6 linked regions of the Homo sapiens genome follow. The protein of the gene in region 2 purifies or fractionates together with the protein of the main gene of each other region. This does not show direct contact. Each region holds a gene or a part of one and is shown on either strand. Other genes may lie near its edges. The genes, in order: ZSCAN25, TENT4B, RABL6, RBM6, TCTN3 and RSBN1L.

Evidence for each region.
Region 1: the proteins of TENT4B (region 2) and ZSCAN25 purify together in Homo sapiens (affinity purification with mass spectrometry, with the first as the bait; one large-scale study listed by BioGRID). This does not show direct contact.
Region 3: the proteins of TENT4B (region 2) and RABL6 purify together in Homo sapiens (affinity purification with mass spectrometry, with the first as the bait; one large-scale study listed by BioGRID). This does not show direct contact.
Region 4: the proteins of TENT4B (region 2) and RBM6 purify together in Homo sapiens (affinity purification with mass spectrometry, with the first as the bait; one large-scale study listed by BioGRID). This does not show direct contact.
Region 5: the proteins of TENT4B (region 2) and TCTN3 purify together in Homo sapiens (affinity purification with mass spectrometry, with the first as the bait; one large-scale study listed by BioGRID). This does not show direct contact.
Region 6: the proteins of TENT4B (region 2) and RSBN1L purify together in Homo sapiens (affinity purification with mass spectrometry, with the first as the bait; one large-scale study listed by BioGRID). This does not show direct contact.

The regions. Positions count from the first base shown.
Region 1 is NC_000007.14:99,625,958-99,630,343, reverse strand, and holds part of ZSCAN25 (zinc finger and SCAN domain-containing protein 25), read right to left. Parts: intron 1,154-4,386; coding exon 324-1,153; 3' UTR 1-323. UniProt on the Homo sapiens protein: May be involved in transcriptional regulation.
Region 2 is NC_000016.10:50,159,389-50,164,293, reverse strand, and holds part of TENT4B (terminal nucleotidyltransferase 4B), read right to left. Parts: intron 1-4,905. UniProt on the Homo sapiens protein: Terminal nucleotidyltransferase that catalyzes preferentially the transfer of ATP and GTP on RNA 3' poly(A) tail creating a heterogeneous 3' poly(A) tail leading to mRNAs stabilization by protecting mRNAs from active deadenylation.
Region 3 is NC_000009.12:136,814,081-136,818,985, reverse strand, and holds part of RABL6 (rab-like protein 6), read right to left. Parts: exon of another isoform or gene 4,811-4,905; intron 4,504-4,810; exon of another isoform or gene 4,436-4,503; intron 4,217-4,435; exon of another isoform or gene 3,455-4,216; intron 1-3,454. UniProt on the Homo sapiens protein: May enhance cellular proliferation. May reduce growth inhibitory activity of CDKN2A.
Region 4 is NC_000003.12:50,054,445-50,059,349, reverse strand, and holds part of RBM6 (RNA-binding protein 6), read right to left. Parts: intron 1,623-4,905; coding exon 1,347-1,622; intron 949-1,346; coding exon 788-948; intron 1-787. UniProt on the Homo sapiens protein: Specifically binds poly(G) RNA homopolymers in vitro.
Region 5 is NC_000010.11:95,683,230-95,688,134, reverse strand, and holds part of TCTN3 (tectonic-3 isoform a precursor), read left to right. Parts: intron 1-415; coding exon 416-543; intron 544-779; coding exon 780-888; intron 889-975; coding exon 976-1,091; intron 1,092-1,604; coding exon 1,605-1,640; intron 1,641-2,498; coding exon 2,499-2,579; intron 2,580-3,510; coding exon 3,511-3,636; intron 3,637-4,505; coding exon 4,506-4,613; intron 4,614-4,905.
Region 6 is NC_000007.14:77,747,574-77,752,478, reverse strand, and holds part of RSBN1L (lysine-specific demethylase RSBN1L), read right to left. Parts: intron 3,056-4,905; coding exon 2,415-3,055; intron 1-2,414. UniProt on the Homo sapiens protein: Lysine-specific demethylase that specifically demethylates methylated lysine residues of proteins.

The sequences.
Region 1 (4,386 bases), on a different chromosome or scaffold from region 2:
TCAAGGTTTTGCCTTTACTCCCAGCTTTGTTCGGCAGGGGGACACAGACAGTCCACTGAAGGAGAAAATCTCAGCCTGAACTGAACCGCAGGAGACTGCTTCCCTCAAACATTGGAAGAAAAATTGTTTAGCACCACTTGGGTAAGAGATGGAAGCAGCTATGCTCTCTGGAAGCTCTAAGTAAGCCAGGCCTTGCCTTTCCCGCGTTGGCGAATGGGTGGGAAGGCGATGGGACCAGTGCTTTCCTGCAGCCATCACCTTGCACCCCGCAAGGCCCTGCAGTGAGAAAGATGAATGATGGTGCTGCCTGCCACCTGCTATGCTCACTGCACCAGCGGCTCCTGGCGGTGCTGGGTCTTCTGGTGCCGGTTGAGGATGGACCTCTGGTTGAAGCTTCGCCCGCAGGCAGGACAGTGGTAGGGCTTCTCCCCTGTATGGATTCTCTGGTGTCGGACCAGCCGCTCCCCTTTGCTGAACCGCTTCCCGCACACCTGGCACCCATATGGCTTCTCGCCAGTGTGGGCACGCCGGTGCACCGCCAGATTGGCATTCCTGCTGAAGCTCTTGCCACACTCGCAGGTGTAGGGCTTCTCCCCGGTGTGCGTCCTCCGGTGCACCTGCAGGTGCTGCCTGCGGCTGAAGCTCTTCCAGCAGTCCCCGCACTTGTAGGGCTTCTCCCCAGTGTGGCTGCGCTGGTGCACCTCCAGGTGGTGTCTCTGGCTGAAGGTTTTCCAGCACTCGCTGCACACGTAGGGCCTCTTTCCCAGGTGGGTTCTCTGGTGCTTCATCAGGTATTCTCTCAGGGTAAAGCCCTTCCCACACTCCACACAGCCATAAGACTTCTCTTCGTGGGTTCGCTGGTGCCTGACGAGATTGGAGCTCCGACTGAATCCTTTCCCACACTCAGGGCACTGGAAAGGCTTCCAGAAGGAGCTGTGGGTTTTGACTTCGTCAGGCAGGGGGATGGCACCGTGCTGGGGAGGAGGAAGCCCAGGCGCACTGCCTGCAGGGCCACCAGGCTCCTGCTCACAGACCCTTCCGAGCCCAGGGCCCTGGAGAGAGGCTTCCCCAAACCTCTCTGATGTCAGTGCCACCAGCGCCCCTTTCAGGTCTTCCTGTGGGGGTTTTGCCTCCTTTTCCTTGCTCCCACCGCCTACAGGACAGGAGGAGATAAAGATTGATTCTGTGGTAGCCGCAGGACATTTACATGTTAGAACTCTGCTTCACAGGGGTCCCATTCATGGTTCCTTCTCTTTTTTCCTTTGACCAACAACCTCAACTCAGGCTTTCCTTACTTCTTTTTCCTTATTTCCACCTCCATGTCTTTTTACAGAATAGTCTGCCAAATTCCAGTGCCCGCCCACTTATCTTGCTGCTAATCTAGACCTTTACTTCTTACAAAATGTAGCTCAATAATTTCCTCTAAGACACTCACCACGATTATTCTCTTACTCTGGGCCTCTTCAGCACTGTGCACCTAACTAGCACTTTATTATTCTGTACCTATTTACATGTGACTTTGTTGGAAATGCTGTTTCCATTCATCCAGATGTCCTGCGCCTTCCCCAAACGATTCTACACCTGCTGTAGCACAGGGCAGCACACAGCTCTCCAGACCTTCCAGGTGCCTGCTCAGTCCCCTGTCCTGCCCACATGCTCCCTCTGCCTAACCAGGTTCATTCATCTGGGTCTCCTAGGAGCCTGGCAGGGGACTGACTCAGGGAAGATGCTTGCTAACTGCTGGCTGAATGAATGAAGCAGGCTTCACTGAGGCTCCTGCAGGAGAACGCCCCTAGGTAGCATATTTATCAGGACTGAGACCATGACGCTGCTGAAATGCTCAGCTTCACCCTTCCTTCATCCTCACTCTGATCCTTCTTATATTCTCTCTAAATTAACGGAACAGGTGTTTATGGAAGAGTAACAGAAAGGGGAGGAGAAAAAAAGAAAAGAAAAGGTATTGGGGAACAAAGAGGCAAAGAGAAAAAAAGAAAAGGAGAAATAAGTGGTGCTTAAAGCGGAAGAGTCCTTTTAGGCAAGATGACTAGAAGACAAAAAAAACCTGACAGTATATGCCTCCTGGTTTGATAAAATATGAAATACATACTTATCAGCTTGGATTTTGTTTTGTAAACTTTTCATGAAAATAAAAGTGTACAAGCCATTTATGTTTTGTACACGCAAAGATTTTATTTTTATTTTTTTGGATCCAGCGCTGGCTAAAAAATGTCACGTTACCCTTTTTTTCCTTTTTGTGGAGATGGGGGCCTCACTATGTTGCCCAGGCTGGTCTCGAATTCCTGGGCTCAAGTGACCCTCCTGCCTCTGCCTCACTGAGTGCTGGGATTACAGGTGTGCGTCACCACACACTATGCAAAGAATTTTCTTAACGAACCCAACCACGTAAACAGCATTCAGTTCAACAAACAGAACATAACCAGTCCCTAGAAGCCCCTTTTACATCTCCTCCATCACTATACCCTGCATATATATACTATACATATACAGTATATACATATACAGCATATACATGTATACAGTATATACAATATACATATACAGCATATACGAGATATACGTATACAGCATATACGATATACGTATACAGCATATACGAGATATACGTATACAGCATATACGAGATATACGTATACAGCATATACATGATATACGTATATAGTATACATATATACTATACCAACGGGAACACATTGTCTGGACTTTTTTGCCTGTTCTTGAACTTCAGGTAATTGTCTCACACATTGTTTCTGGCTTCTTCTACTCAATATCATGTTTGTGACGTTCACCTATATCATGGTGTGAAGCTGTAGTTTATTCTTTTTCATTGGTATACAGTATTCCACTGAGTATATGTATGTGTGTGTGTGTATGTATATATAGATAGATATACAGATACAGATAGACTGCAACCTACTTATTAATTTGACTGTTGTTCATTTGGGTAGTTTTCAGTTTTGAGGTGTTATGAATAGTAAGATTAAAACTAAATGCAATGCACAAACCACAACTAGATCTTGGGGAAAGCTGACTATGCACTAGATGTTACATATATCGAATTTATGTTTATTTTCTTAGATGAAATTATGCTACTGGGCTATGTTGGGAATGTCATTGTTAGACAAATGCTGAAGTATTTACAAATGAAAGATTGAGATGCCTCCAACTTCCATATCATTCCAAAACAAAACACACATTATACAGCTAAATATGGCAAATGTTAACAATTGGTGAATGTAGATAAAGACCTAAGTGTGTTCCCTGTACTAGTCTTAGCTTTTCTGTATGTTTGAAAATTTGTATAATAAGAGTTCAAAATATAAAGCTGGGGGAAAAATAAATACAATGATACCTAAGTATAAACAGAGACACTGGGAGAAAGACACAGTAGTGGAAGAGAAGGGACCTAGCAGTGAGAAACCCGTTTTGAGTGCTGCACTGGCTGCTCAATTGCTGTGTGATCATGGGAAAATCAATTAACCTCTCTGAGCCTTACATTCACCACCTTCAAAATGGATTGTACACTCATGAAGTTTACTGCACACATGGAGCAGGAATGCAATGGTTCATGATATTATTTTAACTCCCAGACCATGTACCTGACTTGCAGCTACTTCCAGGGACCATCCACTTAGATCTCAAAGTCAACAAATGGAACTTTCCATTCTTCCTCCCTCTTAGGAAAATGCTTCCCTCTCTTTCTGACAGTAGTAACATAATTTTTCCAGGCCCTTAGCCAGGATCCTAAGACGTAGACTCCTCTCTGACTCTTCTCTTTCCTCCCCTCTGGCCAATCTGTGGCCCATCCTTGGAAGCATATTTCAGTAAACCCCCTTCTACATGACCACTGGCCTGGTTCCTGCTCTTACCCCAGTGCCTACACTATTTCAACCCTCCAGACTGGCCGTACCCTGCCGTCAATCCAATTTTCCTCAAGTAAAACCTCCATCACATTACTCTGCGCAGAAAAAATTTTTAAACAAGGACCCAGAGTCCTCACGGACTCCTCAGCGGCCTCACTCTACTCACTCCTGCCTCCTCCTTACTCCTCTGAGCACTCATCTTTCACTCCAGGACCCTCACCATCCTGGGAACCAGCCTGCAGAGTCCTGCATTCAGGTTTCTGCACCTGCTACTTTTTGCCTCTGTGATTCCAAATCCTGTTGTGAGTTCTTGCTCCAGTCCTTGTGGACATTACTGCAATTACAACCCAGACAACAAGGTCTGCACCTCACCGTCTGCTAATGAGAACAGACGAACAACTGGAAGTGATCTGGGCAGCCACCTAGCTCAACCCTGCCCTGTGCATTCAGTCTCTTTACAGGTGAAGCAGCTCAGGCCCAGCCCCAAGCAGCTGTCAGTACAAGC
Region 2 (4,905 bases):
GATGGGCTCACACCTGTAATCCCAATACTTTGGGATGCTGAGGTAGGAAGACTGCTTGAGACCACAAGTTCAAAACCAGCCAAAATGGTGAGATCCCATTTCTTTCTTTCTTTCTTTTTTATTTTTTATTTTTTTTGAGATGAAGTTTCACTCTTGCTGCCCAGGATGGAGTGCAATGGCACAATCTTTGCTCACTGCAACCTCCACCGGCCGGGTTCAAGTGATTCTCCTGCCTCAGCCTCCCAAGTAGCTGGAATTACAGGCACGTGCCACCACGCCCGGCTAATTTTGTATTTTTAGTAGAGAGGCGGTTTATCCATGTTGGTCAGGCTGGTCTCGAACTCCCGACCTCAGGTGATGCTCCTGCCTTGGCCTCCCAAAGTACTGGGATTACAGGCGTGAGCCATCGCACCCGGCGAGACCCCATTTCTATAAAATAAAATAAACAAATAAAACCCAACTCTTTAAAAACATTAAAATTATTCCCACAGTAAGAGTGCGTATTGATAAAAGAAAAACATAAAATATATATATATATAAAAACACTAAAAAGTCAAAAAATATTTACATCAAACTGTTAACAGAAATTATATCAGGCCGGGCGCGGTGGCTCATGCCTGTAATCCCAGTACTTTGGGAGGCCGAGGCAGGTGGATCACAAGATCAGGAGATCAAGACCATCCTGGCTAACACAGTGAAACCCCGTCTCTACTAAAAATACAAAAAATAAGCCGGGTGTGGTGGCGGGCGCCTGTAGTCCCAGCTACTCGGGAGGATGAGGCAGGAGAATGGCGTGAACCCAGGAGGCAGAGCTTGCAGTGAGCCGAGATGGTGGGCGACAGAGCGAGACTCCATCTCAAAAAAAAAAAAAAAAAAGAAATTATATCCTGGTAGTGATATTACAGGGGTTATTTTTCTTCCTTTATTTCAGCTATATTTAGGGACAGTAGTATAAACACCCCAAACAAACAAGAAAGTAAAGGGTGAATAACTTCAAAGAACAAGGACACTAAAATTTCCAAACTTATCACTAGTACTTTATTAAGTCCAAGTTCCTGGAAATTAGCCAAAAGTCACCTAATTATAGAATTAAAACACAATCCTATGTATTCTTATTCTTGCTTTGGCAGGAATGTACAATACCTGACAGTGCTAAGAGTTAAGTTACTTTCACAAAATCAAAACAGTGACTACAAAGGGCCAGTAAGGGAAAACTAAGGGACTAAGTCCCAATTCTCAGGTCACAAAGCTGTTTAGATAAAACAATTTATTCTAGGATAGATTTGAAGATCAAGTATCTATTCTATAGAGTCTAAAGGTATTATTCAGGTATAAAAATACTGTAAGAAAACTTTACCACCACCAACAACAAACCACTAACCACAGGTTTACTCCCTAAAATATAGCCAAGCCAACAGACTATAAAATATCCTCATATGAAAAGACAGGACTCTCAATTTTGAAATAAACCCCACAGTTTTACTTTTTTATGTTTTTAGAAAACGAGGCTAAAGATCTACTTCATGCTAGTAACTAGTTTCTAAGAAAAAGCAACATGTAAAGGAAACACTGAAAATTACTTCAAAGACAAAAAAAAGTTAAAATGTTACTGCTAAGAGTAAAACCAAAGAAAAACTGGAAAATTAAAGCCTTTCAAGTCACAATTTTAGAGATTTTTCATTGAGAAAGTTCAATACTGCCAAGATGTTTTAAAATAAAAAAAGTTAAGATTAGATGAGGCTATTTTTATTGATTAATATAAGGCAAAACAGGCTATCACTACACATATTAGAACCGCTCAAATAAAAAAGTGGTAACACTAAATGCTAGCAAGGATGCAGAGAAACTGGATATCTCATATATTGTTGATAGGAATATAAGAGGATATAGTCATTCTAGAAAATAAATAGTTCAGCAGTTTCTCTAAAAACCAAACATGCACTTACCATACAATCCAAACATTTGGGCATTTATTCCCCCAAAATGAAAACTTTATATTCACATAAAAATATTTATATACATGAATGTTTATAGCAGCTTTATTTGCAATAGCCAAAAAACTGGAAACCACCCTTCTGGTATGTCCTTCAATAAGTAAATGGTTAAACAAATTGTGTGGTTCAGCCATACTATGGACTACTACTCAATAGTAAAAAGAAATGAACTACTGATACATGCAGCAATTTGGATGGCTCTCAAAGGAAGTATGGTAAAAGAAAAAAAGCCAAAGTTACATTCTGTATGATTCCATTTATATAACATTCTCAAAATGGCAAAATTACAGAGATGCAAACAGATTAGTGGTTGCTGGAAGGGTGCGTGCGGCTATAAAGTGGTAGCATAGGGAGCCCTGAGGTGATGGAGTAGCTCTGTATATAGAACTATAGACTGTTACAGTGGCTATCCAGATCTACACATGATAAAATTGCATACAATTATATATATACACACACACACAAATACATGTGAAACTGGTGAAATCTAAAAAAGGCTTATGGATTGCAACGATGACAATTTCCTGGTTCTTGACATTAAATTATCGTTATGTGAGCTACTACCATTAGGTGAAACTTGGTGAAGGGAACATGGGCTCTGTACTATTTTTCACAACTTCCTATAAATCTGTAATTATTTCAAAATAGAAAGTAAAAAAATTAGTAGGGCTATGTATGAGGAGGTTAATATAATAACAAATGGAAAAGGTTTAGCATAGCATTTGAAACACGGTAATAAAGGCTTCCATTTTATTGAAACTTTTATTACATTAATTTGAAAACACAGGTTTCCGCACTAAATATATACAACTATTTCAGCAAAAAGCATGACTTGAGCTAGAATTCCTTAATTTAATTACCAAATACTATGTGAAATCTCTTGTGCACATGGTTAAGATTGTTTTAAGACTTAAAATTGTCCAAGTGAATAGGGAACCAGTACACAACATAAATGGCTCAACATTCAGCTTTTTTCCCAAAAATCTTTAACTCAAATGTCTTTTTACATCATCAAGTAACTTATCAGATGGAAATAAATGTATCATCTGCTGTGTGATTCCAAATTAAGGAAAGTCTAACTCAAAGCCATCCTCAACTTGAATATATATAATCTCTTACAAAAAAACAATTACGTGTAATCTTAAGAATAGTGAAACAAACTCAAAGCCTTTTTGGCATTCCACAGCAGCTGAGTCCCTACCAAATATTCTGGGGTGGAAAGAACATTCTACTGGCCATCCTCTGAATTCCTCAGCAGACTCTAGGCTGTCCAGTCAGCTCTGTAGGAAACAGCAAATACCAGGTGCTGGTAACTAGTCTCTAATTCTTCAAAAAAGCATTATCTTTGGCCTACAGCCCCTTCAAGATTACTCTATACCTATGTGTGTGTAAGTGATTAATACAGTCTCTAGTGTTGTGGGTGTGATCCTGAAATAGTTTCCACCACTAAATGTTACTCTTAACAGAGTCAACAAAAGAGAGAATAGAAAGCTGTGTGAAATCATACAAAAGCTTGATTTTCTACTTTCCACAGGAAAAAAAATTACTTTAATTTTCTCAGCTTCAGCAGGTGCAAGAATATCTAACCACTGCCATGACGTCTATACCCTTCCTGTGATATTCAGTATACAGGTTATCTGAGAACAAGTGAGAACCATCTGATCAGTTCCGTATCACCAACGGAGCCCTTAAATTCTGTTCCCATGGACCCTTCTGTACTTCTAACACTATGATTTGTTGGCAGGAATTTCACGGAAGAAATTGAGATGTAAGGCCATCTGGCATGCCAGGATCAGAATTTTTCTAATACACACCCCCGTTCCTGACTTAGAATTTTCTAGTATCCCTTTCCCATCCTATCTTTCCTGTAATGTAGTAAGCCTTTTGTGTGACCACTGGGTAGACAGACTCCAAAAAGTCACTCACCGTTTCCTTTGCTTTTCAATAGTTAAAACTTTATGAGTGTTAAAAAAGAGTCCACAAAGACGAAGGGGGAAAAAAAAAGTCCAAACACTGAAATGCCAATGATTAATGGTGACAGTATTCAATGATCACAGATTTTGGATAAAAGATGGAAGTTGTGGAATGAAAGTTAAGTTAGCGGCCGGGCGCAGTGGCTCATGTCTGTAATCCTAGCACTGTGGGAGGCCAAGGCAGGCAGATCATTTGAGTCAGGAGTCCAAGACCAGCCTGGCCAACACGGCGAAACCCCGTCTCTACTAAAAATACAAAAATTAGCCGGTGTGGTGGCGGGTGCCTGTAATCCCAGCTACTCAGGAGGCTGAGGCAGGAAAATCACTTGAACCCAGGAGTGTTGAAGTTGCAGTAAGCCAAGATCACGCCACTGCACTCCAGCCTGGGTGGCATAGCAAGACTCCGTCTCAAAAAACAAAAACAAAACAAAACAAAAAAAACAAAGAAAGTTAAGTTAGTTGAACACAGTATACTAAATTTTGAGACATTCTTAAATATGAATTATATTGTTAGTGTACAATCTACACTATAGAAAACCTAATGTCTTCTTAAAAGCGCATGTCAGTACCCAAATCAGTAAAATTCAATAACCTGAAGGTTCTAGTTCACTAAGAATTACTGTGGGCTATATCTGCAAATGCACAGAAATTAAATAGAGCACAAATCACTTGGAAAAAGGCCTCTAAATTCTTTCATATTCAATCTACTTTAATCTGTCTGATTGCTTTGGAGCCCAGCAGTAACACCAATCTCATTGGTAACACTGTGTAGAAATAAGCAGAGAGAGGCCGGGCGCGGTGGCTCATGCCTGTAATCCCAGCACTTTGGGCGGCCGAGGCAGGTAGATCACCTGATGTTGGGAGTTTGACACCAGCCTGACCAACATGGAGAAACCCCATCTCTACTAAAGATACAAAATTAGGCATGGTGGCACATG
Region 3 (4,905 bases), on a different chromosome or scaffold from region 2:
TTGCAACCTGTTTCTACACTTTGGGAACCCTTAAGTTTTCAACACTCACATCTGCTGCAGTGAAGTCTGAAGTTAACACTTCTTCTTAATAATAATATAGAGATCTGAACGCCTTGACTGTCCAGCTTCACCCTGGGCTGTGTTACTTCTGGTAGTTTCTTCTTTTATATACCCTATATAAATCATGATCACCACTGATTAACATAACCAACGCTTATTCCTTTTCTTTCCTTTTTTTTTTTTGATTAAGTCTCACTCTGTTGCCCAAGCTGGAATGCAATGATGCAGTCTTGGCTCACTGCAACCTCCACCTCCCGGGTTCAAGTGATTCTCCTGTCTCAGCCTCTCGAGTAGCTGAGACTACAGGTACGCACCACCATGCCTGGCTAATTTTTGTATTTTTTTTAGTAGAGATGGGGTCTCACTATGTTGGCCAGGCTGGTCGTGAACTCCTGACCTCGTGATCCACCCACCTTGGCCTCCCAAAGTGTTGGGATTACAGGTGTGAGCCACCGCACCTGACCCACCAACACTTATTTCATTTTCACCACATATTTACCAGTTTCTTTGCTTACCTTTGGTTTTTTTTTTTTTTTTTTTTTTTTTTTTTTTTTTTTTTTTTTGAGACAGAGTCTGGTTTTGTTGCCCAGGCTGGAGTGCAGTGGTGGGATCTCGGCTCACTGCAAGCTCCGTCTCCTGGGTTCACGCCATTCTCCTGCCTCAGCCTCCTAAGTAGCTGGGACTACAGGCGCCCGCCACCACGCCCGTCTAATTTTTTGTATTTTTAGTAGAGACGAGGTTTCACTGTGTTAGCCAGGATGGTCTTGATCTCCTGACCTCGTGATCTGCCCGCCTCGGCCTCCCAAAGTGCTGGGATTACAGGCGTGAGCCACTGTGCCCGTCATTTTTTTTTTTTTTTTTTTTGAGATGGAGTCTTGTTCTGTTGCCCAGGCTGGAGTGCAGCGGCGCGATCTCAGCTCATTCCAACTTGTGCCTCCCGGGTTCACACGATTCTTGTGCCTCGGCCTCCTGAGTAGCTGGGATTACAGGCGCCTGCCCTCATGCCCGGCTAATTTTTGTGTTTTCAGTAGAGACAGCGTTTCACCATGTTGGCCAGGCTGGACTCAAACTCCTGACCTCAAGTGATCCACCTGCCTCAGCCTCGCAAAGTGCTGGAATTAGAAGTGTGAGCCAGCACCCGGCCCCCTTTGCTTTTTGAAATCCACTCCTGTGTTTCGAGCTCAACTCCACCTCTCTGAAGAATAACCTTCAGTATTTATTTCTAAAAGAGCCTTTGCACAGTGAGCCTCAAGCTTCGGCAGAAGTGGAGCCAGTCACACGGCTCTCAAGTGCTCATCAGACAGAGACCTCAGCCCACGTCGGCCTCCCCTCAGCCCACGTCGGCCTCCCCACAGCCCACGTCGGCCTCCCCTCAGCCCACGTCGGCCTCCCCACAGCCCACGTCGGCCTCCCCTCAGCCCACGTCGGCCTCCCCTCAGCCACAGGTTTGCTGCGAGCTGGTCACCAGTCCACTGCATGCTCCTCTCAGGGAAGTCTTTTTGTTCTGGTTGCATCTAAGATGTTTACTTTTTAATGTTTTGAAAATTTCCAATGATGTATCTAGCTGTGGATGTTTTTAAACTCTGGACTTCTTGGAGTTTCCTGTATTTCATGAACTCTGGAAAGTCCTCAGTCTTCCCTTTCTCCTTTCTTGCTCTCTTCTCCTTCTGGAACTTGTACTGGACATGGGCTGGCATCGCCTCCTCCCTGGGCCGCACATCTCTTCCCAACACTGCTCCTCTCTTCAGCTGAGTTAGTGCTGCTTCTCGTGCTGCTTCTCCTGCTGCTGACTGATTTAACGTTAATGACTATGTTTTTCATTTCTAGAGGTTTTCATTCTGTTTCTTTTTCAAACATAAACTGTCTGCTCATGGTTTTTTGTATTTATAATTGACATAATAATTGCACATATCATGGGCATACAGTCTTGACTAGTCTTAAGATTGCTTCCTTTTACATCTTTATCAATTTTAACATACATTTGTTTTCTATTATCTTCACATTTTGAGAATGAAGAGTCTTATTTTCTCTCCCTTGAAATGAAATTTACTCCTTTTAAAAGCTAATTACCCATATACACACCTACTATATGGCCACAAACTCTTTTTTAAAAAAGCTAATTACAAGAAATCCTGTAACATCAGAAATAAGGCAAGTAAAATAATCTGATTTAATTATTTTAAAAAATTACCCCCCCCCCCTTTTTTTTGAGACAGAGTCTCACTCTGTCACCCAGGCTGGAGTGCAGTGGCGCGATCTCGACCCACTGCAACCTCCACCTCCCAGGCTCAAGCAATTCTCCTGCCTCCGCCTCCTGAGTAGCTGGGATTACAGGCATGTGCCCATCACACCCAGCTAATTTTTGTTATTTTTAGTAGAGACAGGGTTTTGCCATGTTGGCCAGGCTGGTCTCAAACTCCTGACCTCAAGTGATCCACCAACCTCGGCCTCCCAAAGTGCTGGGATTACAGGAGTGAGGCACCATGCCCAACTTAACCTCTACTTTTAAGTTAAAAAGTTAGGCTGGTCGCAGTGGCTCTCTCCTGTAATGCCAGCACTTTGGGAGGCCAAGGCAGATGGATCGCTTGGGCCCAGGAGTTTGAGACCAGCCTGGGCAACATGGTGAAACACTGTCTCTACAAAAATTACAAAACTCAGCCAGGCATGGTGGCGTGCACCTGTAGTCCCAGCTACTCAGGAGGCTGAGGTGGGAAGATTGCTTGAGCCAGGGAGGTGAAGGCTGCAGTGAGTCAAGATTGCGCCACTGCACTCCAGTTCAGGCGAAAGAGCAAGACCCTAAATAAATAAAATCAATTTCAGAATCTTTTTTTTCTCCTGCTGGTCCCTTGATCTTGGGTTTTCTTTTTTTCTGCTTAACTTCAGAATCTTAAATGTTGGCTGCAATAAGCTAAGTGATTCTCCTGGAAAACCTTTAGGATTCATCCAAGAAACGCTAAGAAGCCCTGTACTTACCTGTACTTAACCTCATGGTAAACCTGCTCTTTTACTAAACGGGATGTGAACACGACCTCTGTTCTAAGCTTGTTTTAGAAGATACAATGCAGAAAACACAGAGCTCTATTTGAGGCCCTGAGCCTTTCTTACCCTGATTCAATTTAACTCCTTCACATTCCTGCAGCTTTCCTGCAAAATATGGAATAATTTTCTTACATTTTCATACCAAGAAGAGCTTATGATTTATCTCAGATGCATGAAGGTTTAACTCCTAACCAGGCCCTCTCACAGTGCCAGCAGCATCTCCTGGGCCCATTACAAGGGCCCAGCCACCTCCCCACCCTGACAGCCTGTGCTGCAGCTGGTGTCAGCCACACCTTGCTCCTCTCCCACTCTGCACCCTGCAAAGATTTCCCATCCTCAGCAGCTTCAGACTACTTGGTGTCGAGGCAGGTAAAAACCAAGGTGACCCCAAGAAAATGGCTGCTCCCCCAAAGGAGGCAGAAGGAGGAAGTGAAGATGAGGAAATGTCAGAAGATGAAGAAGATGACAGCTGTGGAGAAGAGACTGTCACACCTCAGGAGAAAGGCAAGAAGGCTGCTGCAACCCCAGCCAAGAAGGTGACAGTTTCCCGAACAAAAAAGGCTGCAGGTGCCACACCCACCAAGAAAGCAACTGTCACTCCAGGCAAAGCAGTCGCCACACCTGCCAAGAAGGGAGCCATAGCAGGCAAAGCACTGGCAGCAGCTCCTGGCAAGAAGGGACACCCCAGCCAAGGGGGCAAAGAACGGCAAGAACGCCAAGAAGGAAGACAGCGATGAGGAGGAGGATGACTCTGAACCAGCAGTGATGAAGGCAGCAGCGGGTGCCCCTGCCTCAGGGGATGAGGACGAGGACGATGAGGACGATGCTGAGGAAGATGGCTCTGAAGCAGCACCTATGGAAACAACACCAGCCAAAGGAAAGAAAGCTTCTACAAATGCTGTTCCTGGGAAAGCCAAGAGGATGGCTGGGAATGAAGATGAAGAGGATGATGAGGACAAGGACGAGGGTGACGATGATGAAGAGGATGAAGTGATGAAGACGACAAAGAGGAGGAAGGGTCTGTCAAAGAAGCACCTGGAAAATGAAGGAAATGACCAAACAGCAGCTTCTGAAGCCAAGAAACACAAAGTGGAGAGTGAGAAGCACAGAACCAACTGTGCCTTTTTTTTTTTTTTAAGACAGGGTCTCACTCTCTCGCCCAGGTTGGACTGCAGTGGCGCAATCTTGGCTCACTGCAACCTTCACCTGCCAGGCTCAAGTGATTCTCCTGCTTCAGCCTCCTGAGTAGCTGGGATTACAGGCGTGTACCACTACCACCCGGCTAATTTTTGTATTTTTAGTAGAGACGGGGTTTCACCATGTTGGCCAGGCTGGAACGTCTTTCAATCTTTGTTGGAAACCTGAACTTTAACAAGTCTGCTCCTGAGTTAAAAACTAGTATCCATGGGCCAGGCCTGGTGGCTCACGCCTGTAATCCCAGCACTTTGGGAGGCTGAGGTGGACAGATCACAAGGTCAGGAGTTTGAGACCAGCCTGGCCAACATAATGAAACCCTGTCTCTACTAAAAATACAAAAATTAGCCGGGCGTAGTGGTGCGTGCCTGTAGTCCCAGCTACTGGGGAGGCTGAGGCAGGAGAATCACTTGAACCCGGGAGGTGGAAGCTGCAGTGAGCACCATTGCACTCCAGCCTGGGTAACAGAGCAAGACCCTGTCTCGAAAAAGAAAGAAAAACAAAAACTAGTATCCATGATATTTTTGCTAAAAATGATCTTGCTGTTGTGGATGTCAGAATGGGTATGACAAGGAAATCTGACTATGTGGATTTTCAAGCTGCTGAAGACCT
Region 4 (4,905 bases), on a different chromosome or scaffold from region 2:
CTTGTGACTTTTGAGCATGAAAAATCTAAGAAATACCAATGACTTTCATTATCTTCACCTTACTTCCATAGAAAAAGGCCCCGCAACTAAAAATTTAAGCCACAGGAATCTATAAATACTTTGAGGAAAAAGAGGAAATGTTTTATCATCAAATATAAAACCATCTGTGGCTGGACAAAATAAATCAGAAAGTTCACTAAAATCATGAAGGATTCAGTACTCAGATTCTTCACAAGCGAGTAAGTTGGAAACAGTAAATGACACAAGAAAAAAATGAACCTAGAAAACCAGACGGGATCCTAACTTTTGAGGGCTGTCACCTGACCTGAATGAACAATAAACCCAAAGGAGAGAGCAAGAGGGATTATGATATCAGGTAGCACACAAGAATTCAAATGATCAAGAAGTCCCTCAAATTTTTTTTTTTTTTTTTTGAGACAGAGTCTCGCTCTGTCACCCAGGCTGAAGTGCAGTGGCGCGATCTCGGCTCACTGCAAGCTCCGCCTCCGGAGTTCACGCCATTCTCCTGCCTCAGCCTCCCGAGTAGCTGCGACTACAGGCGCCTGCCACCACGCCCAGCTAATTTTTCTGTATTTTTTAGTAGAGACAGGGTTTCACCGTGTTAGCCAGGATGGTCTTGATTTCCTGACCTCGTGATCCACCCACCTCGGCCTCCCAAAGTGCTGGGATTACAGGCGTAAGCCACCAGGCCCGGCCCCCAGTCAAACCTTCTTGAAGGTTCTTTAGCCATCTGTCTCTAGGCCAATCCAAGGTGGAGGAAACTCACCGCATGGGAGTCGAGGTCAATAAAGCCATAGGTATGCCCCATAGGGCCTGTTCTGTTCTTGATGATACGGACGTTGGCAGTAGTAAGGCGGACATAGGGCTCCAGCACTTCCACTATCACCTCAGGTGGTGTGGAACGATAGATACGCTTTAGCATGATAGCTGAATCAACCATAAATGGGAGAAGGGCAACACAAGGGAGAGAAAGATAAATTTTTGAAGTCCCAAGAATCTGACTGTCATTTTTTACTATAGATGCTACTAGCAAGGCTGGTTCTGTAAAAAAATGCTAAACAAATAAATACTGCATACTTTTCTTCACCAATACTTAGAAATCTAAAATCATGCCTTACTGCATTCATATAGCAATTTACTATTTGAAGGGCATAGATTCCTTTAAGCAGTACAGGAAGGTCCACAGACAGCAATGGCCTCTGTCATCAGGTCATGCACAGATCTCTCAGGGTACTGGAAAGCAGATAGCTCCCGGACATAACATTGGCCATCTATGCTCCATTGTGATGATCACAGTCTGGTATGTGCCCTGACAAACTACTTACTTTTGCTCTCTCCATCCTGGCGTGTCTCTCCAGACCATGACTCCCTCTCTCGGTCTCTTCGGAAAGTTGGCCCTTCCCTTCGAGAAGGAGGCAGATACCTTTCTGCTTCTCTCTTTTGATGTCCTAAGCGTGACTCTTGGCCTTCTTCCCTCTTCCTGGGTTCAGGTTCCTTATCAGCTGGTCTTAGGGGCTGGTTGGGCTGTTTTTCCAATGGTGCTGGTATGGATGTTTTCTGAGGCTGAGGGTAGGTTATTAATTCTTGCTTGGCCTCTGTCACTAGTGGAACAGAAACAAAGAGAATCTCTAGAAAGCTTTATCAAAAAAAAAAAAAAAGAAAAAACACTGCTACTGTAATTTCTCCTTACCTGCCAGCAAATACTCATACTGGAATGCCTTTTTTTTTTTTTTTTTTTTTTGAGACGGAGTTTTGCTCTTGTTGCCCAGCTGAAGTGCAATGGCATGATCTTGGCTCACTGCAACCTCTGCCTCCCGGGTTCAAGCGATTCTCCTGCCTCAGCCTTCAGAGTAGCTGGGATCACAGGTGCCCACCACCACGCCCAGGTAATTTTTTGTATTTTTAGTAGAAACGAGGTTTCACCATGTTGGCCAGGCTGGTCTCGAACTCCTGACCTCAGGTGATCCACTTGCCTCGGCCTCCCAGAGTGCTGGGATTACAGGTGTGAGCAAACACGCCCGGCCTGGAATGCTTTTAATATTATCTCAGAAATATCTAATAAAAAGTCCTCTGACAGTTCCTGACAAAATATTTTAAGTGAAGCTGAGACAGGACATGAAATAGTTCACAGAAGAAACTATCCAAGCATTTAAAAAATGTAATCTTATGAAATCTCTATATCACCTACTAAACATTTAAATATAACAAATCCTTCATGACACCTTGAACCTGACTATCATAATCAATGATAACAACACATCTGGGGACAAAATTACCGAAGATATGGCCCTTACTTAAGGTTTAGTAGAAACACATATCCCAAACACACATCTAGAAGCCTTGCTTCTTCCAGTGTTACAGTGCTCAAACAGCTACTCATATCCTGTAAGACCACAGGCCCTCCTCCAGTGAAGCTAGGAACAGACCCTATCTGCACGTAGCTCCTTTATATGCAAATAAACATAATGGGCAGACGTCCTTCAAAATATAAATGATTTATTTCAAATGTCCTACTACAGCAGGATAATTTGTCTTTATAGTTTGTTTTATAATTAGGGGCACATTCTTGTAACTAATTCATTCTTGGAGGGTTCACTGGAATCCATGTGGCTCAAAAAGAGGTATTATATGAGAGCAATATAGAGATTACATAATAGCAGTGACAGGTTTCCAGATTAAAGCTGTCTCATCTTAGTGGTATGGTGCCCAGTGGTTTTCATACACTATCTATTCATGGCCGGGAGCGGTGGCTCACGCCTGTAATCCCAGCACATTGGGAGACTGAGGCGGGCAGATCACGAGGTCAGGAGATCGAGACCATCCTGGCTAACACAGTGAAACCCTGTCTCTACTGAAAATACAAAAAATTAGCTGGGCACGGTGGCGGGTGCCTGTAATCCCAGCTACTTGGGAGGCTGAGGCAGGAGAATGGCGTGAACCTGGGAGGCAGAGCTTGCAGTGAGCCGAGATTGCGCCACTGCACTTCAGCCTGGGTGACAGAGCAAGACTCCGTCTCAAAAAAAAAAAGAAAAAAAACAAAAAACTATCTATTCATTTGCTGGAATAGCTTTGAAAAAAAGTGTTTCTTGTGGGGGGAAAAAAACACAACTTTGCCTAACCTGAAGTGACCTAACAAGCAAAAATCTCAGTTGTTCATCCTCCTTCCCACATTTTGGTTTGGTTTCTAGAACATACACAGCCTTCCCCTAAAGATTTTCAGAACACCTGCCTTTCAGTCTTCACCAGAGTAAAATCTCCACAAGAGGACAAAAGCCCACCTAAGAAACTCCTTGTAGGCACATTAAACTCTAACCTTGCAACAAACAGAAGGCTACCTGAATCCCTGCACTGAACTATATTTTATGGTCATGCTGTGGCTTTCCTTAAGGGATGACTACAGGACTGTTGTTATGGATGCATGTGTCTGACTCTTCGAAGTTGCCTACCTGAAATTTCTCTAAAGAAATTTACATTAAAGATAAGTGCTTGAGAAGCTGGTAGTTTTATTCCTCTAAAATAATAAAATGTTCCCCACATCCTGATTATTTTCTCCTATTTATGTTTTTACTGTTATTTTAACAAATGTTTTTCTCTTGAAAATCCTGAAATGCTTACAGAATGTAAAAGAGAAAACAATAGAGCAAATGATTCCCAATAACTTCAAAGAAGTAGGAGTGGGAGAAAGGTTTGCCACACAGACTGATGTCATAAAGACTCTTTTTCAACCTAACATCCTTAATCCTTAAATGTATTCCAAATAACAATATACTGACCTCTGCTCAGCTGCCCACTTAGCCACTTTAGCCTAGGAGCCCACAACCCTATCTCTTTCCTCTGGTGAAAATAAGATCTGAAATCATTTACTAACAGGTTACGTTAAGTTGGGCACCAAACTGCAATTTTTTTTTTCTCACTCTGTTGCCTAGGCTGGAGTGCAGTGGCGAGATCTCAGCTCACTGCAACCTCTGACTCCTGGGTTCAAGCGATTCTAGTGTCTCAGCCTCCCAAGGAGCTGGGATTCCAAGCATGTGCCACCACACCTGTGGCTAATTTTTGTAATTTTAGTAGAGACAGGGTTTCGGCATGTTGGTCAGGCTGGTCTTGAACTCCTGACCACAGGTGATCCACCTGCCTTGGCCTCCCAAAGTGCTGGGATTACAAGCGTTAGCCACCATGCCTAGCTCAAATTGCACTTTTGAAAGGTTTGGGCCGGTCGTGGTGGTTCACGCCTGTAATCGCAGCACTTTGGGAGGCTGAGGCAGACAGATCACGAGGTCAGGAGATCGAGACCATCCTGGCTAACACGGTGAAACTCCGTCTCTACTAAAATACAAATAATTAGCTGGGCATGGTGGTGGGCGCCTATAGTCCCAGCTACTAGAGAGGCTGAGGCAGGAGAACAGCGTGAACCTGGGAGGCGGAGCTTGCAGTGATCCGAGATTGCGCCACTGCACTCCAGCCTGGGTGAGTACGAGACTCTGTCTCAAAAATAAATAAATAAATAAAGGTTTGCAGGCCTTGTGCAGTGATTCACACCTGTAATCCCAGCACTATGGGAGGCCAAGGTGGGTCGGGTCACAAGGTCAGGAGTTCAAGGCCAGCCTGACCAACATGGTGAAACCCCGTCTCTACTAAAAATACAAAAAAATTAGCCGGGCTACAGGGCGTGGTGGCACATGCCTGGAATCCCAGCTAATCAGGAGGCTAGGGCAGGGGAATCGCTTGAACCTGGGAGCTGGAGGTTGCAGTGAGCCAAGATGGTGCCACTGCACTCCAGCCTGGGCAACACAGCGAGACTCCATCTCAAAAAAAAAAAAAAAGGTTTGTAGATCAACTTGGATTTAGGGATGATAATTCTTCAAAGCCAAGGAAAACATGAAATTT
Region 5 (4,905 bases), on a different chromosome or scaffold from region 2:
TTATAGGCCTGAGCCACCATGCCTGGCTGAGCTTCCTATTTTCATTACAAATTGCTGATCATACACATTCTTGACCATCAATGACTTGAAACTGACTGGCATTCATGACCATATTCTTATCTCAGATCTGCATATTAAAACAATAATTCAGTTAATAGATTGTGAATAAGAAGTGATGGAAATCAGAATTGTTATTTCTGGAGATGGAGTATTGATTGGGAGCCTTCTGGGGAAATATTCTGTAACTTGATCTGGATAGTGGTAATACAAGTATATAAATTTGTAAAAATTCTTTGAGTTTACACTTAAGATTTGCACCCTGTATATTATGCTTCAATAAAAATATTTTTTAAAATTAGTTACTTGGCATGTTTTTCTTTTATCTAAACGCTTTTTCTTTTAAAAAACATTTTAGCAAACTTAAACTATTTCCAGAAGCTTCAAAAGGTCAATGCAACCAACTTCCAGGCCCTGGCTGCAGAGTTTGGAGGCGAATCATTCACTTCAACATTCCAAACTCAATCACCACCATCTTTTTACAGGGTGAGCCTGGGGAAGGGGATGGGATTGTTTGGTTTAGTTTTTACTCTCACAGCAGACAGCTGACAAGGTAACTTTGCAGCACTACCCTGCAGCTAGCTAAACCATTGTCAGCTCTTTGGAGGGCAGTACTGTCCACGTAATCATGCCCTTGAGTTAACCTTGTTTCTACTCTTTCTTTTCTGTTGTAGTTTAGTCCAGTCTCACTGTGAACAAAGTTTCTTTTATATTTTATTCAGGCTGGGGACCCCATTCTTACTTACTTCCCCAAGTGGTCTGTAATAAGCTTGCTGAGACAACCTGCAGGAGTTGGAGCTGGGGGACTCTGTGCTGAAAGCAATCCTGCAGGTGAATCCAGAGCAAAAGTACCAACCTTTTCATTCAATTTAAAACAGGCTTTCTCATTTACCACTCTCTTAATTATTTGTGTTTAAGGTTTCCTAGAGAGTAAAAGTACAACTTGCACTCGTTTTTTCAAGAACCTGGCTAGTAGCTGTACCTTGGATTCAGCCCTCAATGCTGCCTCTTACTATAACTTCACAGTCTTAAAGGTAGGTGTCCTTTCTCTCCCTACACTGTCACTACTATGAAGTTGAAGTGAACATGCTTCTCACTGTTGTGGGTTGTGGAAAGAGCATTGAATAAAAGTCAGAATCCCCAGGAGCCACGTAAAAGACAGAGGGCCTGGAAACCACATCTGAAGACAAATGAAATAATTGGGGATATATATGCAGGATAAGAGATCATCACCCTTCTCACTAATGGGATTGGCTTGCGAGGGTGGAAGGGGGAAAACACCCATCTCACCAAACTTCTTGCTTTTGCTATTCAGTAGAGCCCTGTCAGAGTAAATAGGCATCACAGTCTGTCACCCTCCTGCCTGGCTCCACTTCCTGGCATTTTAGTGTAAAGAAGAGTCAGGTGGAATAGAGGAAGTAAATCATTCTAATATATTGACTCCCCTGCCCGCCAAACCAAAGCCTATTGGTAGTAATATGAAACCACAAGCTCCTGGTGATTTTTGGTAAGGTATATGCACATTCATGTCCCTGCTGTTCTCCTAGGTTCCAAGAAGCATGACTGATCCACAGAATATGGAGGTATGATGCTGTTGTACCAGGAAAAAAGAAAAAGAATATTTGGCTCCTCTGCATCTGAGGCAATTTTAGTCTAAGTTGTACTGTTGAAAGATAAATGTAAGCGTGATGTAGCAAACAATTAAGTAGGGATCTAAAACGGTGCCTTTGCAAGTACGTCCTATACAGTTAATAGCCTCGTATGAAACCAGGATCCATAAGGTGTTAGATAAGTTTGTAAACATTGGGTTAAATAAACTATATTTAGGGTGGGCTTCTTAATTTTTTTGAGAGACAGGGTCTTGCTCTGTCACCCAGGCTGAAGTGCAGTGGCACGGTCACAGTTCACTGCAGCCTAAACCTCCTGGGCTCAACTAATCCTTCTACCTCAGCCTCCCAAGTAGCTGGGACTATAGACGTGTGCCACCATGCCCAGCTAATTTTTTAATATTTTGTAGAGATGGGGATCTTGCTATGTTGTCCAGGCTGGTCTTGAACTCCTGACCTCAAGCAATTCTCCTGACTTGGCTTCCCAAAGTATTGGGATTATAGGCGTGAGCCATCTCACCCCTCCTGGAGTCTTTAATTTGCTAGAGGGCCTTATTAATCTCTAAGGGGAATACTGAATATAGTATTTCTAACAATTATTTGACTATGGAACCCTTGTTTTATATTTAATAGAACTAGTGTTCTGAGAAATAAGTTTTGAGAAGTGCTCGTTTAGAAAGACTTGAATTTAAGTTGTTGGCTGGCACTGGAAGAAGAGAGAGAGAGGGTGGTCAAGGGGAAGGAAAAATACTCATCTTAGCATGATATCTATTAATAGATACAAGACAAAATACCGCCTTCAGTTTTAGTTAATTTGCTTCTTTTCGTTGCTAGTTCCAGGTTCCTGTAATACTTACCTCACAGGCTAATGCTCCTCTGTTGGCTGGAAACACTTGTCAGAATGTAGTTTCTCAGGTAGGGATACTGACCTCAGATTCTGGACTGATGTGTGTTAATCAACACTGCCAGAGGTGCCTCATCTTCCATTAAGTATCAGACTGACCCAACTGAATTTTGTTTGCATTCTCTAACAATGTTGGGAATGCAAACTTGTTGTATTGGTAGATTCTTGGTTGCAATCCTTGGTAAAAGTAGCATATTGTGAATTTCAACAATTCCCAACAAGTTTGAAATTAAACTTGTCAATAATTGAGCCCATTATCCTCCCTACCACGTTTCAGTTATTTCCATCACCACCATCCTCCAGTATTTCAGGTCCAGGACATTAAAATTATTTCTGACACCTCTTCTGTTGCCCACTTGCAGTCTGTTACTGATTCTTACTGACTGACCACATTTTATTCTCTTGACACAGTATCATCTGAAACTCTGAAGTAGATTAATCAACTTGTATTCCTCTGTTCTCTAAACAATCTAACCTTAAAAAGTAAGAATTATCTTAAAGCATCTTCTTAAAGACTATGCTCAGAAATTTAAGGTTACTTTCAATTGCCTGCAACTTGTATCCCCAGCAATGATCTTTATTAATTCTCAAACATTGTGAGAGCCAAGTAAACCAGATTTCTGTTCCATGCTCACCTCTGCCTGTTTCTACTTGCCCTCCTCTGTCCGTAATCAACTTATTTTTCTTCCCTTTCAGTTCCTACCAAAAACTCACCTACCCGTGAACCCTTTTAAAGAGCTCTATCCAGTTTCTTTTTCATATACAAATATAATATGAAATCATCTTTATCTTTCATAGTATTTGTGTTTGGCATTTTTAACATTACTGTTTCAGTCTGCCTCATTTAGTTATAATAACACCCTTGAAGACAGAAAATCTTCTGTCCTAAACATATTCGGCCCAATAACTACTTTTTATTAATTGATTCTTTTTGCATTTCAGGTCACCTATGAGATAGAGACCAATGGGACTTTTGGAATCCAGAAAGTTTCTGTCAGTTTGGGACAAACCAACCTGACTGTTGAGCCAGGCGCTTCCTTACAGCAACACTTCATCCTTCGCTTCAGGGTTAGGGCCCTTCTCTTATAGGGGATTTAGAGGGGAAGAAATATTGGGTTAGAAATAATTTCTTTGCTTCTGTAATACATGTGAAATAGAATAAGAATATGAAGGCCTAGTTCAGTCTGTCGATTGAGGCCTCAACATTTAATATTCCATAATTTTACTACAAGTTGTGGTTATTCTACAAGTCTTTACTCATTAAAATTTTCTCCAATTCTCTGTCTGGCCCCCAACAAAGCAGGACTTCAATCTAAAATCAAAACTTTTTTTATAGTCATTTTGAATCATAAATTCAGCCAACACCTACAAAAATTCTTTAACTAGCTGTTCTCATATTTCTGGGCAGTCAGCATTTTACTCATTTCCCACTTAATCTGAGTGTTCACTCTTAATCACTGCCATTTGGCTTTCTGCTACTTCTTTCCTCTTTTTGAACCCAGCATAGATTTTCTCAACTCTACCCTCAGGTGATCAACCAACTGCTGTGTCTCTCAGAGCTCATCTCTGGAACATCTGTAGTTAATTAAAATATATATTTTTTAATTACATTTAAATTTTTCAGATTTTAACCAGGCTGTGTTATTATTGCTAAATTGCTAGTAATTTTTAAGGGATCCTTAGTAGATTCTTGGTTGTAATCCTTGGTAAAAGTAGCGTATTATGAATTTCAATATTCAGATCATGAAGGATTTATTTTAGTAAATTTAAAAAAGTGAAAGAAGCAAAATGCTACACTGTGGAAAGAAGCCAGATTGTTCAGTGTAGCTCACTTATTGCATTTCCTTGCCTTAAGGAAGGGTACGGTGAAGCCAAGCAGTGGGAGGTGGGAAAGTATGCTTATCTCCATAATTGACTTCTCTTCCCTCTTTCTGCAGGCTTTTCAACAGAGCACAGCTGCTTCTCTCACCAGTCCTAGAAGTGGGAATCCTGGCTATATAGTTGGGAAGCCACTCTTGGCTCTGACTGATGATATAAGTTACTCAGTATCCTTTTTAGAGCTGGGTGGCCTGTTGCAGCCTAATGAGAAAAGCTGCAAAGGCTTTCAAACTTATGTTAGACTAGCCAAAGGTGAGGAATTTTTTGTTCATTATAATGAGGTACTTATATACTAATATATGGTTAATCATTTTTGGAATCTAGTTGTCTCTCTGTGGTTTTCTGAGGAAAAAAATCACAAATTTGTGACTCGAACATTATGATAGTAATACAAAATAAATAGCATTAAAGGAGAATGAGAACATAAATTTTGCAATGCTGCCTCCTTTTTTTTTCTGT
Region 6 (4,905 bases), on a different chromosome or scaffold from region 2:
CTAAGGACAAATCAAAGGCTACCTCCCCAATCTGCACACAACAACTTCCCCACTCACAGGAATAAGATCTGAAGAATCTTGTGATAAAAGGAATACGGGCCTTGCACATGTACTTTCCTGCCTTTAAGTCTAAAGCTAAAGAAGCAAAAGTAGTCCCTGCAGCTGACATGCTTAGGTCACCAGGGTAGCAGATCACACAGATATGGGGCCAGAACCACAACTGGTAAAAAACAGGATCCATCTGCCTGGAGTTTCCTCTTTGCAATATATATTACCCAAGAAGCCCGAAGACATGGTGACAACCAGAGGAGGTGGCTCATCAAGGACTTGAGATCCACATCCCAGGCACACACTGCCATGATTAACAAGTCCAGCATCTCATTTTATTTAGTAACAAAAGCAGTTTTCATGGTGTACATATTAGATAGTTTAGATGAAAATTTTTATCATTTAGTATAAAATAATTCCTAAACTTATTTGAAAAACCATCTGAAAAGCATGTAATGTGATGCACATCAATGTACTGTCACATTTAAAAGGTTACTGAAGCAAACTTGCATAGTATCAAAGCAAGAAAGTTTGTGGTATTGTGGAAATAACCGGGAATGGGAGCCAAGAGGCCCAATAGAAAACCGGACATTTAGGAGACATGCAATAAACGACAAATGAATGATAAGGTGATAAGGCACTTTGAACATGTTATCTCTTCTCTCACTGGATCTGTTTCTTCACTGCTAAAGTAAGATTATAATGAGGATTAAATGAGTTACTACATATAAAATACTCAGAACAACTAGTCCTTGGCACAGTCAGTACTCAATAAATAGTAAACACTATTATTAGATGCCAGTCCTGATTCTGCCATTATATTCAGGTGTAACCTCAGACAAGTAACTCACCATTTTGGGTTTCTATAAAATGACAGGGCTAGTAATGGATGCTCTATAGCTCCCTATCTAGTTTAGAAAATATTTAATTTTCAATTCTCAAACATGTTAGAGAATAATTCCCACATACGCACATTAAAAATTATTTTCCAGGCCGGGCGAGGTGGCTCACGCCTGTAATCCCCACACTTTGGGAGGCCAAGGCAGGCAGGTCACTTGAGGTCAGGAGTTCGAGACCACCCTGGCCAACATAGCGAAACCCTGTCTCTACCAAAAATACAAAAATTAGCCAGGCATGGTGGTGCATGTCTGTAATTCCAGCTACTTGGGAGGCTGAATCAGGAGAATCGCTTGAACCCGGAAGGCAGAGGTTGCAGTGAGCCAAGGTCGCACCACTGCACTCCAGTCTGACTCCATCTCAAAAAACAAAAAACAAAAAAACACCACATTATTTTCCAGACTACAATCTACTACAGAATATACACCAAACATACTCATACTATTGGGGGCGGGGTACATGTGGATGTGACTGAACATCCAGACTACCATTTAAAGTGGAAACTATAACTTGAGCACCCATCCAAAAAGGAACATATTCAGAATAAGGAAAGGAGCCCTGGATGAAGATTAAGATTTTGTTCTAATCCTGACACTGCTGACAATGTTAAACAATACCTTACTCCTCTCTCTCTACGTCTGTTTACTTATTTGTAAATTGAGAGGTGTTGGGATAAATAATCACTAAGATCCATTTGAGACTTCCTTTACTTTTTCCCTCCTTCCAAACTAGAATGTTGTCCTAGAAACCAAAAACCGTTCCTAGAAAACCAAAAACTACAGCATCAATAAATGTGAGAACTGGCCAATCTCCAGACTAAACAGTCCCAATCTGAGGATGGGTGATAATGGCACCAGCCTTTCAGATGGGCCCACACTGATGTTCAAGACCCAGCAGACTCTATTCTGTCTGCTTTCCAGAATAATATATATTCTCCACCATAGAGAAGGGTAGGAAATGAAAATTAGCTCAATATACTGATTGCTACTTTTAACACATCATTACACAGTAACTGATGATTCCTTCATACCACAATATTTTTAATGGCCAACATTTCTTCAGTACCTACCATGTGATGGGCCTGGTGCTAAGTACCTTAAAGCATCCTAAAGCTAGAAGACAATTTTAGGTGATTTCCAGGTAAGAAAACTATTTAAGGACTGGAAAATACATGGCTAAATTCATTTCCTTAGGTTCAAGACCACTCCTTGCAAAAAAAAAAAAAAAAAAAAAAAAACACAGAATCTTAATTATTTCATTAATTGTCTTTAAAAAAAAACATACATAAGTGAAAATTGAATTTTAAATTCTGATGCTCACATCAAGAAAGTAATTTACTCTTAATACTCCCAAATGGTTTCATTATATTCTTACCTTTTTATTTCAGCCCTATAATTAGGAACAAAAAACAGAAACTCATCTAAAAATATATAATTAAAAGTTATTTTATAAAACTAAAAACCTCTTACCTGAGCATGAAAATTGGACATAGTCGTTGTCTCTATATCTTTCTTTCCCAATATCTCCATTTTCACTGGTGAATTGGGAAAATTAAATGAAAAATAGTCTAAAAAGTCAGGTAAATAAGTAGCTGCCCCATGAACAATACCCATCACGTAGAAAGCTGCAGAGTTTTCATTTTCACTGAACACTAGACCCACAAACTCTTCTGCAAACCTCTCCATCTCCATAGGAGACAGGTGGGAGAGTTCGTTACTGTAGGCATGGATAACCGATGCACCTCCATTAGGCTGGTGCTCTATATGAATGAGTTGTTTAAATTCCAAAGTGTCCAACCTTTTGAGGTTATTCTGAACTCGTGGCTCCTTTAATGAGACAAATGGAAACTCACTGTTCTCTGGAATTTTGGAATCATAGTTCTTGGTATCCAAATTCTTCCCAACGTAATCTTTTATGTTATCATTTAGGATGCCTTTGGCTGCTTGATCTTCAACATCAGTTAGCAATCCTGAGCAGATGGTCTGAATAGATTTGCTATACATTTTCGGACGCTTCCGTTTTTCATTCTCTTTGTGTTTCTTTTTCTTTTTCTTCTTTACCTTTTTAATTTGTAAGTCTTCTATATTTGTTTTTGGTTTCTCCTTCCCACCTGTTGGAAAAAATGTTTTTTGAAACTCCATATTTTAATTACTTTAAAAACCATGCTTTAGGAACAGTTTTGTCTAAGTAAGAAGTTTACTTCTGAAAATTTACTCAGAATTATATATTTAGGACTCATTTTTTACAGAATTGATAATCAATATTTAGTCAGCCTTTTTTGAGACAGAGTCTTGCTCTGTCGCCCAGGCTGGAATCCAGTGCCACAATCCTGTCTCACTGCAAACTCCACCTCCTGGGTTCAAGCAATTCTCCTGCCTCAGTCTCCCAAGTAGCTGGGATTACAGGAGCGCGTCACCATGCCCAGCTAATTCTTGTGTTTTTAGAAGAGACAAGGTTTCACCATGTTGGCCAGGCTGGTCTCAAACTCCTGACCTCGTGATCTGCCCGCTTCGGCCTCCCGAAGTGCTGGGATTACAGGCGTGAGCCACCACACCCAGCCAGCCAGTCTCTTCATGTACACAGCGAGAGAGAGACAGAGAGAGAGAGAGAAAGAGAGAGACAGACAGACAGACAGACGGGCATAGAGCAAAGTTACATCTACAGTGTGTGCTACCATTCTGACATATAGCAAATGCTCACAGTTTACAGAAATAAGGAGATGAATGAATATTTTAGAAAACAATCTTCAGGCCAGGCGCAGTGGCTCATGCCTGTAATCCCAGCACTTTGGGAGGCCGAGGTGAGTGGATTGCTTGAGGTCAGGAGTTCGAGACCACCCCGCCCAAGAGAGCAAAACCCCATCTCTACTAAAAACACAAAAATTAGCTGGGCATGGTGGTGAGCACCTGTAATCCCAGCTACCCGGGAGGCTGAGGCAGGAGAATTGCTTGAACTGAGAGGCAGATTGCAGTGAGCCAAGATCGTGCCACTGCACTCCAGCCTGGGTGACACAGCGAAACCCTATCCCAAAAAGAAAAAAATAAAGAAAAAAAGAATCATCTATGCCTAGTGTCTTTCCTTTACCACCTTATCATTCTTACTGCTTAAATTCTGGTTCTGTTTTCAATCTGTTTAAATTTGCTTTCCCAGAATGTTGAAATATCAAATCCAGTCATATTTACTCAAGTCATTTTTTCTGGTGTCTCCGTGATTTGACAGAATTATCCAGCTCATCCTTGATTACTTCTGAATTCCTTGATGCCACTGTCTTAATTTTTGGTCTAACAGCTGCATAACTGTCTCTCATCCTGAATGCTACAGCCATATTAACCTTTCTATAATTTTTATGTATTCTTTTGATCATATTCATTCCTTAGCTAAACTGCTTTCAAGAGCTCTCAATGTCTACCTATAATCTCTTCAGTCTGGAATCCAAAGACAGTGCCCTCAAGTACCTCATACTCTGGTCAAACTGAACTATTTATTTACAATTTCTTATAAAACATAACTCTACTGGCAAAGGTATTTCCTCTCCTTAAAATACACTTCACTTGCTCATTATTTACAAATGAACTCTTTTCTATCCATTTGATGTGACTGAAAGTTTCCTGAGCTCCCCCCCGAGAAGCTGAGCAGATGCCAGCATCATGCTTCCTGTACAGCCTGTAGAACCATGAGCCAATTAAACCTCTTTTCTTTATAAATTACCCAGTCTGAAGTATTTCTTTATAGCAGTATAAGAATGGACTAATACAGAAAACTGGTACTGAGGAATGGGGCATTGCTATAAAGACATCTGACAATGTGGAAGTGACTGCCCTAGTAGAGAGGTTCTCCATGAGAGCTCCATTCCTTTAGCAGGCTTCTGCCTGAACATCCAGGTGTTTCCATACAGCCTCTGAAAACTAGGTGGAAGCTCCCAAGCCTCGAATCTTGCATTCTGTGTACTGGCAGGCTTAA